Regions from separate parts of the Homo sapiens genome. Here region 2 is linked to region 1. The links come from fine-mapping of genetic effects on gene expression. Tissue or cell type: whole blood. Region 1 holds a variant in brackets; the other region holds the start of a gene. All regions are shown on one strand. Distances are from middle to middle.

Region 1 (8,000 bases):
CTCACAGAGCCCTGGTGGAAGCCGTTCCACTGCCCCAGCCCGAGCCGCGCAGAGCCCTGGTGGAAGGCATTCTCCTTCCTGTGCCTGAAGTCGCGGAGTCTTTTCTATAAAGAAAGGGCCATGGGGTGTGTACCTCCCTGGAGAAAAAAAAATTCTTTAACAAGAGCTCAACCACTTTTTTTTTTTTTCTTTTGAGACAGAGTCTGGCTTTGTCACCCAGGCTGGAGTGCAGTGGTGCGATCTTAGCTCACTGCAACCTCCACCTTCGGGGTTCAAGAGATTCTCCTGCCTCAGCCTCCCAAGTAGCTGGGATTACAGGTTAGGGTATCCCGTTGGGCACACCACCACGCCTGGCTAATTTTTGTGTTTTTAGTAGAGATGAGGTTTCACCATGTTGGCCAGGCTGGTCTTGAACTCCTGACCTCAGGTGATCCGCCTGCCTCGGCCTCCCAAAGTGCTGGGATCACAGGCATGAGCCTCCTTGGTCTCCCAAAGTGCTAGGATGAGCCTCGGTGCCCAGCCTTAACCACACATTTTGGATTTTGAAATTAATTGCTATTCCCACACGAGTCGTTTCTCATTTCTCACAGGATAGTTTTGGTGGCAGGTGTTAATGTTTTGTTAATGCATATATTTTTGAGTGTCTCTTTATTGAGAATTAATTACAGTCTTCCTTTCCAGATGGCTGTTGACAGGCTGTCTTAGTAGTGATTGGACAACATCCCAGGTGAGTGAGGGCAGCAGAGTGTCCACACTAGAAGTCTTGCTGCTTTTATCCCATCCTGACGGTCTGTAACTTGTCTGTCTCTGGTTCCAGATCGACACCTCTCATGGCGTGGAGAGCTGGGCGGAGCAGTCCTCTTCCAGAGTTGGCTCCCGCTGGCATGAGGGTGGGTTTCTGCAGGGCCTGTGGCCTGTCCAGGATGCCTGAGGAGTCTTCTTCCAGCCCAGGCCTGGATGGACTTGCCCAGCCCTGGATGGACTTGCCCAGCCCTGGGGGCAGCCAGTGCCAGGACGGCTTGGCCTCGCCTGGAGCTCCTTGGGCGCTGACAGCTTTACCCTGAGGCCAGCTAAGGAGCTCTGTGAAGCAAGTGACAGCAGCGAAGGCACCTCCCCTGCTGGAAGTGGTTTGGGACAGAACTGCGGGTGCCTCTGGTCTGTGCGCTGGAGCCGGCGTTTGCTTTGACCTCAGTGCTGCGGCCAGAGCTTTGGCGTCCGGGTCCCGGGCTCCAGCTGGGTGCAGCTGCCCAGGCGAGAGAGCTCTCAAGTGTGTGGGAGCAGGAGGGGAACTGGGTGACCGAACAGCCGCGTCGGAGGGGGATATCTGCGGAGAGCTGTGACTGGGAGCCGGTGTGTGCCTTTCTGTGGTCATTTCTCGAGTCCTCTGCCGGCTGCTGCCAGGTGAAGGCATCTCCATGCCCAGCCGGTGGGCAGCTGGGGCGGGTGGACCTCCAGCTTCTGCCCGACGGGGTTCAGATGACCGAGATCCTACGGGATTGCCAATGTGTGGGGACGGGGGGCTTTCAGGGGCGGGAAAACATGTCCCCATCCGTGGGAAGTGGAGCCACGTGGCTCCGACCCAGCAACTTTCTAGGGAGATCGAAAGACAAAGCCTGCCACGGCGTCCTTGGCGGTGTGTGCCTGGCATGTGCGCGGCGCTCCACGTGTCGGCGTGGAATTACGGGAATGTGCTGCTTTTCAGAAAGAGCGCCCCGCGGTGCCCTTGCCCGTCCTCGTCGGACGTGTTAGGTTCAATGTCAGCTTTCTATTCAGAGCAGGTGGTTGTGGACTTGGTGGGCTCCAGGGACCCAGAGCAGCAGGTGGGCTCAGGAGGGGGATAGGCATCCCCCATTCCAGATTCTGGAATACCCAGAAGCACCATCTGGCAGGGAAGGTGGCGTGTCGGGGGAGCCCGCTCCCAGGCCAGAGACGCGTCCCACCATCTGCCCAACAGCCCATCCCCTTTCCGGACGGTCCCCATCTCCACTGCAGCTGGAACCATCTGCTGGAGCCTCCCCTGGTTCCTCAAATCTTTATGTTCCTTTATGTTCCTGAGATGAGTTTCTGAAGATGGAGAAAAGTGGGATTTCTAGTGAGGTTTGGGGCATTTTACCAAAGGTGACCGCGCTCTGCTGGCATCTGTGAGGGTCGGGAGAGCAGTCCACACAGGCCGTGCCTTCTGAGCTGCCAGACGCCTCTTTATGCAAATGCCTGTTGGAGTTTTAATATCAGTTGTAGAGAAAATGAAGCTTTTTTTTTTTTTTTGGTCAAAATGGGATCTCTTGGCCAGGTGCAGTGGCTCATGCCTGTGATCCCAGCACTTTGGGAGGCCAAGGTGGGCGGATCACCTGAGGTCGGGAGTTTTAGACCAGCCTGGCCAACATGGCGAAATCGTATCTCTACTAAAAATAGAAAAATTAGCTGGGCGTGGTGGCGGGCGCCTGTAATCCCAGCTATTTGAGAGGCTGAGGCAGGAGAATCACTTGAACCCGGGAGGCGGAAGTTGCAGTGAGCAGAGATCATGCCATTGCACTCCAGCCTGGGCAACGAGAGCGAAACTCCCTCTCAAAAAAAAAAAAAAAAAAAAAAAAAAAGGATCTCTCAGCTGTTGGGCCTGAGATGATATGTCTCAACCTGGGCACCATGACAGAAGAAACTTGTGGCATCTGACTGTGAGATTAGTCCACGCCTGGGCTCTGCGTTCATGGGCAGGGCACACCCTAGTGCTGTTGAAGCAGGTACATCAGAGGCCGCATGACAGCTTTGCCTTTTGCTCTCCAGGGTGGGCAGCAGGTGGGCCCAGCGGGGAGAGAGTTGTCTTGGGGGTTGATAAGGAGGCCTGGTTGTAGAGATTCTCTCCGTACCATTTTGCTGAAAGAGTTTGGTTAACTTTTTGAAAACAATTTAAAAATTGTAGACATGTGCCATAGAACCTAAAAAAATATGCTCGTGGCAGATAGTAAAATGATAAGGGCTCTAAGAACATTTTTAGAATAGATAGCAGTATGACTTTATCCCTACTTCTAACATTCTTTCCCCTGAAACTACACAGACATTCATTCAGCATATGAAGTGGGTGCAATGGCTCATGCCTGTAATCCCAGTACTTTGGGAGGTTGTGGCGGGAGGATTGCTTAAGCCTGAGAGTTCAAGACCAGCCTGGGCAACATAGGGAGACCTTGTCTCTACAGAAAAAGTTTAAAATTAGCTGAGCGTGGTGCTGTGCACGTGTGGTCCCAGGTACTCGGCAGGCCGAGGAGGGAGGATCGCTTGGGCACAGCAGGTCGAGGCTGCAGTGAGCCATGATTACACCACTGCACTCCAGCTGGGCCACAGAGTGAGACCCTGTATCAAAAAAGAAAAGAAACGCCCACACATAACCTACCCGGGAAGGGGGCCAGTGCAGGTGGGACAACGCTGTGATCCTTGAGAGAAGAGAGAACACAGATGAGCTGCCCTTCACCCCAGTGGTGTTGCTGGCATATTTCCCAAACCCTGGAGCAGGAAGTGGACCCTGAGCGGACGGCAGTGTACAGATAGAGATTGTCCTTCGGGGCAGCCAGAGGAGCCGGGACTTGAGGGGCAAAATCCCAAGAAGCAAGAAACAAAGAGGAGGACCCCAGCTTCTGCATACAACTGCCCCCCACCCCAAGCCTCTAAGCCCCACACACACACACACGCACACACACACACAACCACACATACACATGCACACATGCACACGCACACATGCACATACAAACATACACACACACGCACGCACACACACACAAGAATCACTTGAACCTGGGAGGTGGAGGTTGCAGTGAGCCGAGACCGCGCCATTGCACTCCAGCCTGGGTGAGAGAGCAAGACTCCGTCTCAAAAGAAAAACAAAAAAAAATCTTAAAAGCAGCCAGAGGGCCAGGTGCAGTGGCTCACACCTGTAATCCCAGCACTATGGGAGGCCGAGGTGGGCAGATCACCTGAGGTCAGGAGTTCGAGACCAGCCTCAACATGGAGAAACCCCATCTCTACTAAAAATACAAAATTAGCCGGGTGTGGTGGCACACACCTGTAATCCCAGCTACTCGGGAGGCTGAGGCAGGAGAACTGTTTGAACCTGGGAGGTGGAGGATGCGGTGAGCTGAGATCGAGCCATTGCACTCCAGCATGGGCAACAAGAGCGAAACTCCGTCTCAAAAAAAAAAAAAACAGAGAAAAAATGCTTAACATTCAGAAGAACAACAGTGATGGCTGACTTTCCCAGAAACTACAGAAGCTAGAAGACAATGAATGACGTCTTTGAAGTACTGGAAAGCAAAAGATGCCAACCTGGAACTCTATACCCAACAAAAATATTCATCACAATTTTTTTTTTTTTTGAGACAGGGCCTCGCTCAGTCACCTAGGCTGGAGTGCAATGGTGCGATCTCTGCTCACTGCAACCTCTGCCTCCCGAGTTCAAGTGATTCTCCTGCCTCAGCCTCCCCAGTAGCTGGGATTACAGGCGTGAGCCACCATGCCCAGCTGATTTTTTGTATTTTTAGTAGAGACGGTTTCACCATGTTGGCCAGGCTGGTCTGGAACCCCTGGCCTCAAGTGATCCACCCATCTTGGCCTCACAAAGTGCTGGGATCACAGGCATGAGCCACCGTGCTTGGCCTATAAATTTTTTTTTTTAATTAGCTGGGTGTAATGGCTCATGCCTGTAGTTCCAGCCACTTGGGAGGCTGAGGTGGGAGGATCGCTTGAGCCCAGGAGGTCGAGGCTGGTGTGAGTTGTGGCTGCACTGCTGCACTCCAGCCTGGATGACAGAGCAAGGCCGTCTCTTATTTAAAAAAAAAAGAAAAAG[A/G]AAAAAGAAAGCACCAGATAAGGCAACTGTGTGAGTAATAGAAAATAATCTTGATTGTTTAAAGCAACAATTATAATTTGGGGGATTTTTAAACCTAAATAGAAGCAAAACATATGACACTATTAGCATGTGGGGTGGATGAGAGTTAACTGTCGTGTGGTTCTGACTCTTTATAGTCACAGGAATGATGACTGAAAATAGGAAAAGTGGTGTGATTCAAAGGCTCAATGAGGAGAAGAAATGGAATAATTCTTGATACAGTTTGGATCTCTGTCCCCACCCAAATCTCATGTTGAACTGTGATCCGCAATACTGGACGTGGTGCCTGGTGGGACCTTCCATGGATGATTTAGCTCCCTCCCCTTAGTGCTGTCCTCATGATAGTGAGGTCTCACAAGATCCGGTCGATTAAAAGCGTGTGGCACCTCCCCCATGACCCTCCGTCTTGCTCCTGCTCCTGTCCTGTGAAACGCTCGCTCCCTCTTCGACTTCTGCCATGATTGGAAGCTCCCTAAGGTCTCCCCAGAAGCTGATGCCACCATGCTTCCTGTAGAGCCTGCAGAACCGTGAGCCAATCAAACCTCTTTTCTCATAAATTATCCAGTTGCAGGTATTTCTTTATAGCAGTGCAAGAATGGCCCGATACAATACGTGATTAATTTGAAAGAAGGCAAGAAAGGAGGAATAAGAACAAAAAGCATAAAGGACAAATAAAAAACAAGATGATAGCCTTACACCAGCCACATCAATAATTACATTATTAAAAATGAACAAAACACATAGCCTGTTTTTAAAAACTATTTATTGGCTGGGTACAGTGGCTCACACCTGTAATCCCAGCAATTTGGGAGGCTAAGGTGGGAGGATCACTTGGGGCCAAGAGTTTGAGACCTGCCTGGGCAACTTAGCAAGACCCCATCTCTAAAAGAATTAAATAATTAGCTGGGTTTGGTGGTGCTCACCAGTGATTCAAGCTACTTGGGAGGCTGAGGCAGGAGATGACTTGAGCCCAAAAGTTTGAGGTTACCATGTGCTATGATTGTGCCACTGTACTCCAGCGTGGGTAACGGAGCAACACCCTATCTCTACAAAAGAAAAAAAGAAAAGAAAAAGATGAATCAAGCAAACACTAACCAAAAAGAAAGTCAGTATAGCAATCTTAATATCAAAGTAAACTTTGAGAAGTATTACTCAAGAGGGACTGGCATAATGATAATTAGTCAATTCAGTAGTAAATATAACAATCCTAATGCATATTGCTCCTAACAGCTCAGTTGGTTTTTTTTTTGTTTGTTTGTTTGTTTGTTTGTTTTTTGAGAGAAGTCTCACTGTTGCCCAGGCTGGAGTGCAGTGGCGCGATCTCGGCTCACTGCAACCTCTGTCTCCCAGGTTCAAGCAATTATCCTGCCTCAGCCTCCCAAGTAGCTGGCAGTACAGGCGCGTGCCACCACCCTGGCTCATTTTTTGTGTATTTTTAGTAGAGACAGGATTTCACCATGTTGGCCAAGATGGTCTCGATCTCCTGACCTCGTGATCCACCCACCTCGGCCTCCCAAAGTGCTGGGATTACAGGTGTGAGCTACTGTGCCCGGCAACAGCTCAGTTTTAAAATACATGAGGTAAAAGCTGGCAGAACTAAAAAAAGAGATAACTTCACAATTACAATTGGGGGTTTTAAAACACTTATCTCAGTAATTGATAGAACAGCAAACAAAATCTCAGTAAGGATAGAGAATATTTGAACACAGTTTTCAAATGTTAAATTCACCTTGAATTCCTGGAAATAAACACATCTGGTCACAAGCTGCTATTCTTTTTCTGTATTATTGGATTCAGTTAGCTAATGTTTGGTTTGAGTCTTGCATCTGTGTTCATAGAGATACTGGCTGTAACAGCACAATTAGCCCAGTTTGAACGTTACACCAAAAGTGCAGGATATTCCAAATGGACAGGAAACATTTACCAAAATAGACCAACCAGGGCCATAATTCAGGTTCAACAAATATCAAAGGATTGAAATCAGAGAGTATATTCTCTGACCTTAGCAAACTGGAATTAGAAATCAGTAACAAGAAGACACTAGAATATCCCCAAATGCTTGCAAATCAAATAGTATACGTTTACACAACCCTCAAGTCAAAGAATAAATCCCTATGGAAATGATAAACTTTTTTTTTTTTTTTTGAGGCAGAGTCTCGCTCTGTCACCCAGGCTGGAGTGCAGTGGTGCGATGTCTGCTCACTGCAACCTCTGCCTCCGGGGTTCAAGTGATTCTCCTGCTGCAGCCTCCCGAGTAGCTGGGATTACAGGCACCGGCCACCACGCCTGGATAATTTTTGTATTTTTAGTAGAGACAGAGTTCCACTATATTGGCCAGGCTGGTCTCGAACTCCTGACCTTGTGATCCACCTGCCTCGGACTCCCAAACTGCTGGGATTACAGGTGTGAGCCACCGTGCCTGGCCAAAATATTTTTAACTGAATGATAATGAAAAAATGCTGTATCAAAACTTTTAGGCCCACATCTAAAGCAATATTTAAGGGAAACTTACAGCTCTAGTTATATATTAGGACAGAAGAAAGGTTCTAAATTTCTTTGTCAAGAAGAAAAAGCATAGCAAATTAAGCCCAAAGAAAGTAACAGAAGGGAAATAAAGAATAGATATCAGGGTGAGTGTGGTGGCTCATGCCTGTAATCCCAGCACTTTGGGAGGCTGAAGTGCGTCAATCACTTGAGGTCAGGAGTTCGAGACCAGTCTGGTCAACATGGTGAAACCCTGTCTCTACTAAAAATACAAAAATTAGCCGGGTATGGTGGTGGGTGCCTGTAATCCCAGCTACTCGGGAGGCTGAGGCAGGAGAATTGCTTGAACCTGGGAGGCGGAGGTTGCAGCGAGCCGAGATCATGGCACCACACACCAGCTTGGATGTCAGAACGAGACTCCATCTGAAAAAAAAAAAAAAAAAGAGCTATCAATGAAGTAGAAAGCAGGCATACAAAAATCAACAGTGTAGCTGGCATGGTGGTGCACACCTGTAATCCCAGCACTTCGGGAGGTTAAGTCAGAAGGCTCGCTTGAGGCCAAGGAGTTTAAGGTTACAGTGAGCTATGATTGCACTGCTGCATTCCAGCCTGGGCAAACCCCAAAACCGAAAGTGAACAATGC
Region 2 (8,000 bases), 25 kb after region 1:
GGAAATCATGGCTCTGCCGTCCTGCCTCTCTGTGGCCGTGGGTTCACGTGGCCTCTGCGGTGAGTCTCCAAGTTTCTGCCTAGGCGCCTGTGCGTTTCCTTTCTGTGACGGGATTAGCTTAGACATCCTTGCAAAGCGATCACTTTCAATAAATTGGGAAATTGCTGCTCCAGCAGATGCCTCCTGCGTCTCAGATGATCCTTCCTCCGGCCTCGCCTGGGGTGGCGGCGGCCGACGGGTGACCCTCGGCCCTCTGTGGGCAGCTGCCAGACTCCACCCACTTGCCCACCACAGGGTCCCAGCCCCACGGCCTTCCTCCCGAGAGGCAGACAAAGCTTCTGGAAAAACCTCAAATCTTTAATTTCTCTCTTCGCCTGGTGCAGCCCAGACGTGAGACACCTGAGCTTCAAAAACAAACATGGTAAAAACAGCCCCAGGGCCCGAGAGCCGTTGAGTTAAGTGCGAGTGGGGGAGTCCCCTCTCCAACACCCCTCAAAGTGCATCGGGACTGGCCCCCCAAAGCTGGGCCCATAACACCCTTGATAAATCTACGGGCCGACAGGCGGGAGGGTGGCTGCCCCCAGGGCCCTTGGGGCTAAGGGGACAGCGGTGTGGTTTGGCTTTAGTGCAAAAAGCTGGTTTCTTTAGAGGCACTTTGAGTGGTGGGACCCCTCCCCGACCTGGCGGGGGGGAGGGTTCAGGGTCAGCCCCGCCCCCCCACCCCAAGTAAAAGCAGACCCTGCAGCTGGTGAAAGCCAGCCCCTGGGGCTGTCCTCGGGCTGTTTCAGCCCCGGGCCTGGAGGGGGTGGGGAGGGAGAAGGTGGTAGCTTATGTTCTTGAACGAGCCGGACTTAGTCCAGGAACCGCTGGCAGGCTTTCTTCCAGCGGCAGGCTGTGCACCAGAGGTCCCGGCGCTCCATGCCATACACCTTCCGGCACTTCTTCGCGTCGCCGCGGGGCTTCCTGTGCGGGGGGTCACAGGACATGGGGTGCTGTGAGACCAGGACCCTCCCCACCTGGTGCCAGCCGCAGGCCCTCAGCCCACACGCACCTCAGGGTGACTCCGATCCTGGAGGACAAGGCGGGTGGGCAGGCTCCGACCTCCGTGGGCTGCGGCTCCAGGCGGGCGGGCGTCAGGCAGCCCTACAGGGAGACACAGCCAGGGCTTCACTCCCCTCCAGAGAGCCCTGAGACCCGCCCCAGCTGCCACCCGTGGCCTCACCCACCTGGTAGACACGGTCACTGTGACAGGACTGGGGGTTAGCAACGGTGCTCAGGACAGGGGGCGGGGGCAGGGGCGGGGCAGGCGGCCGCAGGGGACTAGGCAGGGCTGGGGGCTCCAGCAGCTCTGGCAGCTCCAGGCGGGGGAAGGCAGGCGGCATGGAGGCCGTGGGGGACACTGGAGTCAGGCTGGACAGCCCGTCGGTCAGCGTGTCCACACCAACATCCAGCTCTGTGTAGTAGAAGTCCTCCTCACCATCACTCTGCTCAGGCTCTGCCTGCCTCCTGCGGGAGACACAGCCAGCCAGTGGGAGCTGAAGGGGTGGCCTGGCCGGGCCTCACAACCCCAGCCAACCCGCAGGCCCCGCCGCACCCCAGGCCCCGCCGCACCCCAGGTGCACCAGGCGGATGTGTCTCTGCATCGCCGACGCCGTGCTCAGCACCTTCCCGCAGCTCTTCCACAGACACTGGAACATGACCTGGGCCGGGCTCTGCAGCAACAGGGGCCAGGGTCAGGCTCAGCCGCCACACCCGCCCCTCCCTGGGGGCCGCCCCCAAGCTCACCTTCCTTTTTCTCAGGGTGGGCTCCCCAAACAGAAAGTGGGCTGCCTCGGGGGGCAGTGGGGGTGACGGGGTGGACGGAGAGGACTGGTCACTGGCCAGGTCCCATCCCCAGTCTCCACTGTTGCTGCTGCTGCTGTAGCTGCCTGGGGGCCGCACCAGGGCCTCCTTCCAGGGCTCCAGGCCAGGCTCTGTGGGGACACGGGCCCCCCGCCTTAGAACTTCGGGTGGGTCCAGGGAGTCCCTAATCCTGAGCTGCCCCTGTTCACCAAGTCCGGTGAGACTGGTGGGCAGAGCGTCTTGGAGGAGCTGGCCCCAGGGCTTGGGGAGAAACCCCCCCGGCACAGGAAAGGGTTGGCAGACGTGTGTGGCCAGCCGCGTGGAGGTGAGCAGGTCAGGGAGGCCAGAAGGCCTGGGTCCTGCCGCTTTGGCCTCAGTAGGGGGCACTGAGGGTGCGGGAGTCCATTTTAGAAAGGAGTCCCAGGTTTGAGGGCTCTGCTTGCCCCACAGAGGCTGGGTGGCTGTAGGTTCTGAGCCCTGTCCCCACCCACACCCCTAAATGCAGACATCTGAGTCTTACCTGGGCTGAAGGCTGCAACCGGGGCCCCCAGAAGGAGAGGGCTGGTGGACAGGCTTGTAAGGGCAGCGGCAGCCATGACCTCGTCCAGCCGGGCTTTTCCTGGGGTGGCTCTGGAGGAGATGGGGGCGGGGTGCGGGTGACCCAGCCAGAGCTCTGGGCCCCTCCCCTGGTCGGTCCACGTGCAGGCCTGGGCACGCGTGCACACCAGGCTCCCCACTCCCAGCCCTGGGCATGAGGCCTGGCTCCTCCCCCAGCTCAGGTTGCAGAGAGAGCTGAAAGCCACCCGGAGCCGCCAGGAGCAGGGCCAGGGTCTCCTGAAGCCTGAGTTCTCCACATCGCGGGCTTGGCTCCACTGTGGTTCCTTCAGATACTGGGGCTGGGCAGGGGTCTGAAGCCCTGGCAGAGGGGCGGGCCAGGCCCAGGCCTCCCCCCATCACACATTAACCAGGGTTGTGCAACAGCAGCTGTGGGCCTCACGCCAGGCCTGGGAGGTGGGAGTGGCCAGCAGCCGGCAGCAGCCAGGGGGAGACTGGGCTGGAAGCACGGGCAGCTCCCCAGGCCCCAGCGAGCCAGGCCAGGGCCCGCCCCTGCCCTGGCAGCCAGACCGAGGTGTCCGGCCTGGCAGGGGTTGGGAGGTGGCGGTCAGGAGCCCCAGGGATTCCTGGACAGTCGCCCCATGCCGACCGCGCAGCCTCTTCTGCACAGAGACGCACAGCCACCCGCTCCGGGTTCTGAGCTCTAGCCCCGAGGAACTGCGGTGGAGGGAGGTGTAGGGACTCCCAGTCATCGATCATTTCTGCTCAGCTCCTCCAGGGCTGAAGAGCTTGGGGGTGGCTGGTAATTACAAACCTGGGGCCCTGACCTGGCCTCCGTCGGGGCCGGTGTCTCCGCACCCCACCCACCGCCCCTGCGCACACCGAGTCCCGAGGCACCGGGCCTCCCGCTCACCTCTGCGCTGGGACGGGGATGTGCGCCGACGGAGTCCGGGGCCCCGCCGCCGCCCCCGTCCACGTCCGGGGGGCCCCCAGGTCCGAGGCCCGCGGCTCCGACTCCTGCGGCCGCGCGAACTCCAAGCCCGCGAAGCCGCCGCCCACGGAAGAGCCCTGCGGATGGGGAGGGGGCAGACTCAGCGGAGGCGGTGGCCGGGGGAGGGGGGTCCCTCAACCTCCGCCGCGGATCCGCTCGGCGCCCGCCTCGAAAACCGGCTGCGGCCGGTGTGGACGGCGCGGCCCCGCCCCCGGCCCCGCCCCCAGCCCGGCGCGGCGGGAAGGGCTCCCCGGCCGCCCGGCGCAGCCCCGGCGGGACCCACGGACACGCGCGGACCGACGCGGCCGCCCTCCCCGCTGCCCCGCCCCCGGGGGCCCGAAGTTTGGGCAGCACTGACGCCATCTTTGCAGCGAGAGAAACTTGGTCGGCGCCCCCGCCCACCGGCGCCCGGTACCTGCGGCGGCGTGGGCACCGTCACGGGCGCGGCGCGCGGCCCCGGACCCTCCGCGCGCAGCCACGGCGCCTCGGCCCGCAGCGCACTGGGGTCCCGGCCGGCGGCGCGGGGCGGGGGGCGCTCCATGGCCGGCCGGCCGGGCGCCGAGGCTGCAGCGGCGAGGGCTGACTCTCAGGACGCGGCCCCGGGCCGGGCCGGGCTGGCCGGGCCGCCGACCCCCGCCCTGGATCCGGCCGCCGCCCGCGCCGCGCCGCCCGGAGGCTGCCCGGCCCGCCCCGCCCCGCCCCGTCTCGTCCCGCCCCGCCCCGCCCCGTCCCGTCCCGTCCCGGCGCGCGCATTGGCCGCGCGGCGTCCACACCGCAGGCGGGCGGGCCCGGCCGGCCGCGCTCCCGCCGGCCAGCGCTTCGAGGCCCCGCCCCGGGCCCGCCCCCTCCGGGTCGCTCCCGCGCTGGCCTAGGGAGGGAGGCCCGGCCCGGCACAGCTCCGAGGCCTCCGCCCACCTCGCGCGCCCGCGCGCCCCGCCGGGGAGGGCCCGTTCCCCACGGGCGCGCTCGCAGAGCTGCCAGAGCCGGGGAAGGGGCCGCGATTGCTTGGCGGGCTTCCCGGCAGCAGGTTACTCTTTAACGCTCGACTGCCCACCTCCACCACCCCTTATGTAACACCAGGCTGGGTGGCGGAGCCCTCCCGTGGAGTCCAGGGTCCAAGTCCCACCCGGGGGCGGCCACCCTGCCGGCTGCGCTGCCCCCTAGGAGTGGCTGGGACCCCGTGCCCGCACTGACCGAGAGTCTGGCCGGCAGGAGCACCGCCTCGGCTAGGCCCGGGCGCCCCGGGGGCAGCCAGTCCCCCAAGGCCAGAGGGGACAGCTCCAAGCCTTCCAGAGAAGCCCCCCGCCCCAACCCGCCCAGCTTTCAAGAAGAGCAGGCTGCGAGGCTGGCCGCTTTCATCCTGCGCTGGCGCTTTATTTAGACGCGGGCCTTCTCTGGAGCCCGGGGAGGCCGCGGCTGTCAGAGCGGCCAGGACCTCACGGACCTCACGGGCTGGCAGCCCGGGGACCTGGGACTGGCGCTGTCAGCTGTGAGGCGGGGCGGGGCGGGGGACGGGCCTCACTCTGGAGGAAGGAGCACAGGTCCTTGAGTGTTCAGGGCAGGGAGGCAGGGAGGGGTCTCCAGCCCCTCCCTAGGCTGGGGCAGCTGGAAGCAGGGGGCGTCCCAGCCCCGCACGTGCTGCTCCTGCCAGCAGGGTCCCCCAGCTCCCGGATGCTCTCATACACGTTTTCCAGGGGGCCGCTGTCCACATCCAGGGCCCTGAGCGGGAGGGTCTGGTAGGCCAGGTCACCCGCCAGGGCCAGAATCGCTCCCTGGCCCTTGGGGTCCAGCGGGTCTGTGGTGGGTCCTGGGTCCCTCCTTTTAGGCTTGCAGACCCTGGAGTACAGGACGTCCACCTGGAGACAGGAAGCCAACCCGAGGAGGGGTCAGCACCATCCAACCTGCTGAGGATCTGCCGGCCCCACCCACAGCGCCCTACCCTGGCCCACGTTACCTGAGCGGCCGGGGTCACCTCAGTCTTCCCCTGCTGTGGCTCTTGGGGACTGCGATGGGTCCCTTTGCGCTTCTGGACGCGGGCATACTCGGCCACCACAGGGCTGGCCGCCAGGCTGACCCCGGGAAGGGCCGCCAGCCCCACGTTGGAATAGGTGGCCTCGAGGCCAGCGCACCCTGCGGTGGCTGCAGCTGCCGGCAGAGCCCGGGGCAGCTCCTGGTGTGGGAAGGCAGAGGGGGCTGCCTGCGGTCCGGTGATGTCCCTGGACACCTCCAGCCAGTGTGGGCGCAGGAGATCCATGCTGGCAGGCCGCAGGGCTGGGGGTGGGGTCAGGGCAGAGTTCACTCCGGGCAGGGGGCAGGAGCGGGTCTGGCCCAGGGGTTGGCACGCGCTGCACAGTAAGCCCCGCCCGGCCGCCCCCGCCCCGCCCTCTGCTCACCCCTGCTGCTGCGCGGGCCCCGGTGCAGCTCGTGCAGTCTGGTGTCCGACTTGCTGAGGGAGCAGAGGTGGGTCCGCCTCAGTAGGGACTGGGGGCGAGGAAGGCTGGTCGGTGCCCTGCGGACCCCACCCTGGTCCCCGGGACAGCCTGGCACTCACCGCTTCCGCCGCCGTCGCACTGCCCTGCAGCCTCGCCCGCTGCCTCCGCGCCCTCTTCCTGGGGGCTACAGCGTCCTCGGGCCTTGGGGGTAGAGGTGGGGGGCGGGGGGCGGGGTCGTCAGCCTCGGGTCCAAGGCCCGGTGCAGGCGCGCGTGCCGAGCTGGGTGCGCGGACCTGCCTCCAGCCCCTTCCCGCGCTGGGCTGTGAATGGCAGCCGCAGCGAGGCCCCAGACAGAACGCGGCTGAGGGACCTACCTGCGGCAGGCTGTGCACAGCGCCCACAGCGAGAGGAGCAGGGCGCAGCACCCTAGAACCCAGAGGGCAGGAGGGGCCCAGGACACTGGCAGCCCCATCCTGTGAAGCCGAGGCCCTGGGGACAGAAGAAAGGGGCGCTGGGGGCTGGCCAAGGGGACCTGGCGCCACCTGGCAGCCCCAAATCTGCACCTCCCGCGGCTGCGGGGCTCCTGCGTCTCCCGTTCCAGCTCTGACTCAGCACAGGAAGCCCCAAGGCCTGGCAGTCCCTCCCTCCCAGAGGTGCCCACCTTCTGGCGGGGGCTCCCGGTGAGGTGAACTAGGGCTGCTCTGCCTGGCCCCTCCGTGTCCCTGCGGGTGACCACGGTAACACCCAGCACGGCCGTGAGGAGGGGCAAGACAGCTGTGGCCACCATAGCCCAGATAGTAACCAGCATCGGGGGAGCCCCTGGGTGTGCGCCACAGGCCACAGACTCCACCTGCAGCCACCCTCTGCCCAGACATGGTCTCCTGTGTCAGGTAGTGCCCCCAAGCCGCTCGCTGCGGAGCCCAGAACTGGGAAGAGCTGGAGGCTGGTCAGCAGGAGGGACCCTGCACCCGGAGGAGCTGGAGGCTGGGTCAGCAGGCAGCAGCAGCTGCTGGGGGTGCTGATGCCCCCACCCCACTTCTCTCTGGCTCTTCTTGTCTGCCAGTGTCTCTGCCAGAGAGGATCTGTCCCCTTCTTGGGGATCTTAGCAGAACTTCTCGGGGTGGGGGATGCCTTACAAACAGCACAGTCCAGCAGCAGAGACAGAAGCTGGGGGGTGAGGGGTGGTCTCTGGAGTTTGGGGCCAGTCTGCTCAGACCCAGGGAGTGGGCTTCAGCCTGGCTGACTGACCCAGCTGCAGCCACATCCCAAGGCCTCCCAGACCCCAGCTGCCCCCCAGGAGGGCACTTACCAAGCCCACGGCCAGGGGTCCTCAGCTCTGTCTGGGGCAGGCCAGGAAGGTCTTTGTGCAGCCCTCGGCTGAGCTCCCCACCTCATCACTTCCTGCTCCTGTCGCCAAGCGCCTCCCCTGAGCCTCCCACCCTGGGCAGCAGCCACCACCGCAGCCTCACCCACCTGCTGCGCCCCGCCCGAAGCCTAGATGAAACGTGTGCGCCTCTAGCCCGCACTGTTCTGACAGCCTAACTCACAACCCCTCCACACACGAAGACGTGAGCAGAGCTGGCACAGAACCCCCAAACCCACAGGGCCAGGTCCGCCTGCCTCACCAAGAGTGCCCCACGTGGTGGGCCACAGTCCTCTCCCGCCCGTCTCGCCCGCTGGAGCAGCACTGAGCTCCACCCATCTGTGGGTGTCAGGCAGCCTGGCGGGCACCCTGGCCTCCGATCTGCCTTGGTCAGAGAAGGGTAAGAAGGGAGAATGCCGGCCTCCTAGGCCCCTCCAGCCCAGCCCGTCTCTCACCACAGCCCTGCACAGACCCTTCTCTCCCCAGAGACCCTGCAGCCAGCTGATCTCCACTGAATGACACTGTGATGAAATCACTTTAATGTCCTTGCCAAGGAAATGCCCAAGACACTGGCAGGTGGGCAAGTAAGTGTCCAGATGGGACCCCGCAGCTCTGTCTCCACTCAGCAGTGTCTGCACGCCCCAGGCCAGCAGGCCGGCCCCTCCTCGGGCAACACTGGTCTTCCTGAGGGCAGCCCGTGCTGGGGTCCCACGCTTCGTCCATAGTGCTTGTGGGGTCTCTAGAACTCAGTCATCTTCTTGTGGGTGTCTGCCTTCCTCTGCTCCTGCTGCAGGCCGGCTTCCTGAGCCCGGAGCTG

What was found. PIP is the estimated chance that this variant, and not a neighbour inherited with it, causes the effect.
Region 2: it holds the start of SLC2A4RG, and the variant in region 1 is fine-mapped to the expression of SLC2A4RG in whole blood (TOPMed, PIP 0.94).

What each region holds. Positions count from the first base shown.
Region 1 is chr20:63,760,800-63,768,799 of GRCh38, reverse strand. All of the region lies in intron 3 of ZBTB46 (zinc finger and BTB domain containing 46), which reads left to right. Among named protein-coding and RNA genes, the nearest start is that of ZBTB46-AS2, 21 kb to the right of the region's middle. The variant A/G (reference allele first, on the strand shown) is at 4,835.
Region 2 is chr20:63,735,842-63,743,841 of GRCh38, reverse strand. It overlaps SLC2A4RG (SLC2A4 regulator), which reads right to left and starts at 4,066. Exons shown (of 8, transcript NM_020062.4): 1 at 3,804-4,066; 2 at 3,311-3,465; 3 at 2,363-2,472; 4 at 1,786-1,973; 5 at 1,612-1,712; 6 at 1,227-1,506; 7 at 1,052-1,143; 8 at 1-963. The coding sequence starts at 3,929. The coding sequence ends at 852. It overlaps ZGPAT (zinc finger CCCH-type and G-patch domain containing), which reads right to left. Exons shown (of 7, transcript NM_181485.3): 7 at 7,700-8,000. The coding sequence ends at 7,923. It overlaps LIME1 (Lck interacting transmembrane adaptor 1), which reads right to left and starts at 7,178. Exons shown (of 6, transcript NM_017806.4): 1 at 7,130-7,178; 2 at 6,195-6,309; 3 at 5,940-6,021; 4 at 5,782-5,869; 5 at 5,343-5,659; 6 at 4,739-5,244. The coding sequence starts at 6,292. The coding sequence ends at 4,942. It overlaps ZBTB46 (zinc finger and BTB domain containing 46), which reads left to right. Exons shown (of 5, transcript NM_001369741.1): 5 at 1-172. It also overlaps ZBTB46-AS2. RefSeq lists silencers at 2,949-3,648, 3,659-3,808, 4,059-4,558, 5,563-5,622, 5,703-5,852 and 1 more and enhancers at 5,283-5,877, 6,077-6,993, 7,573-7,752.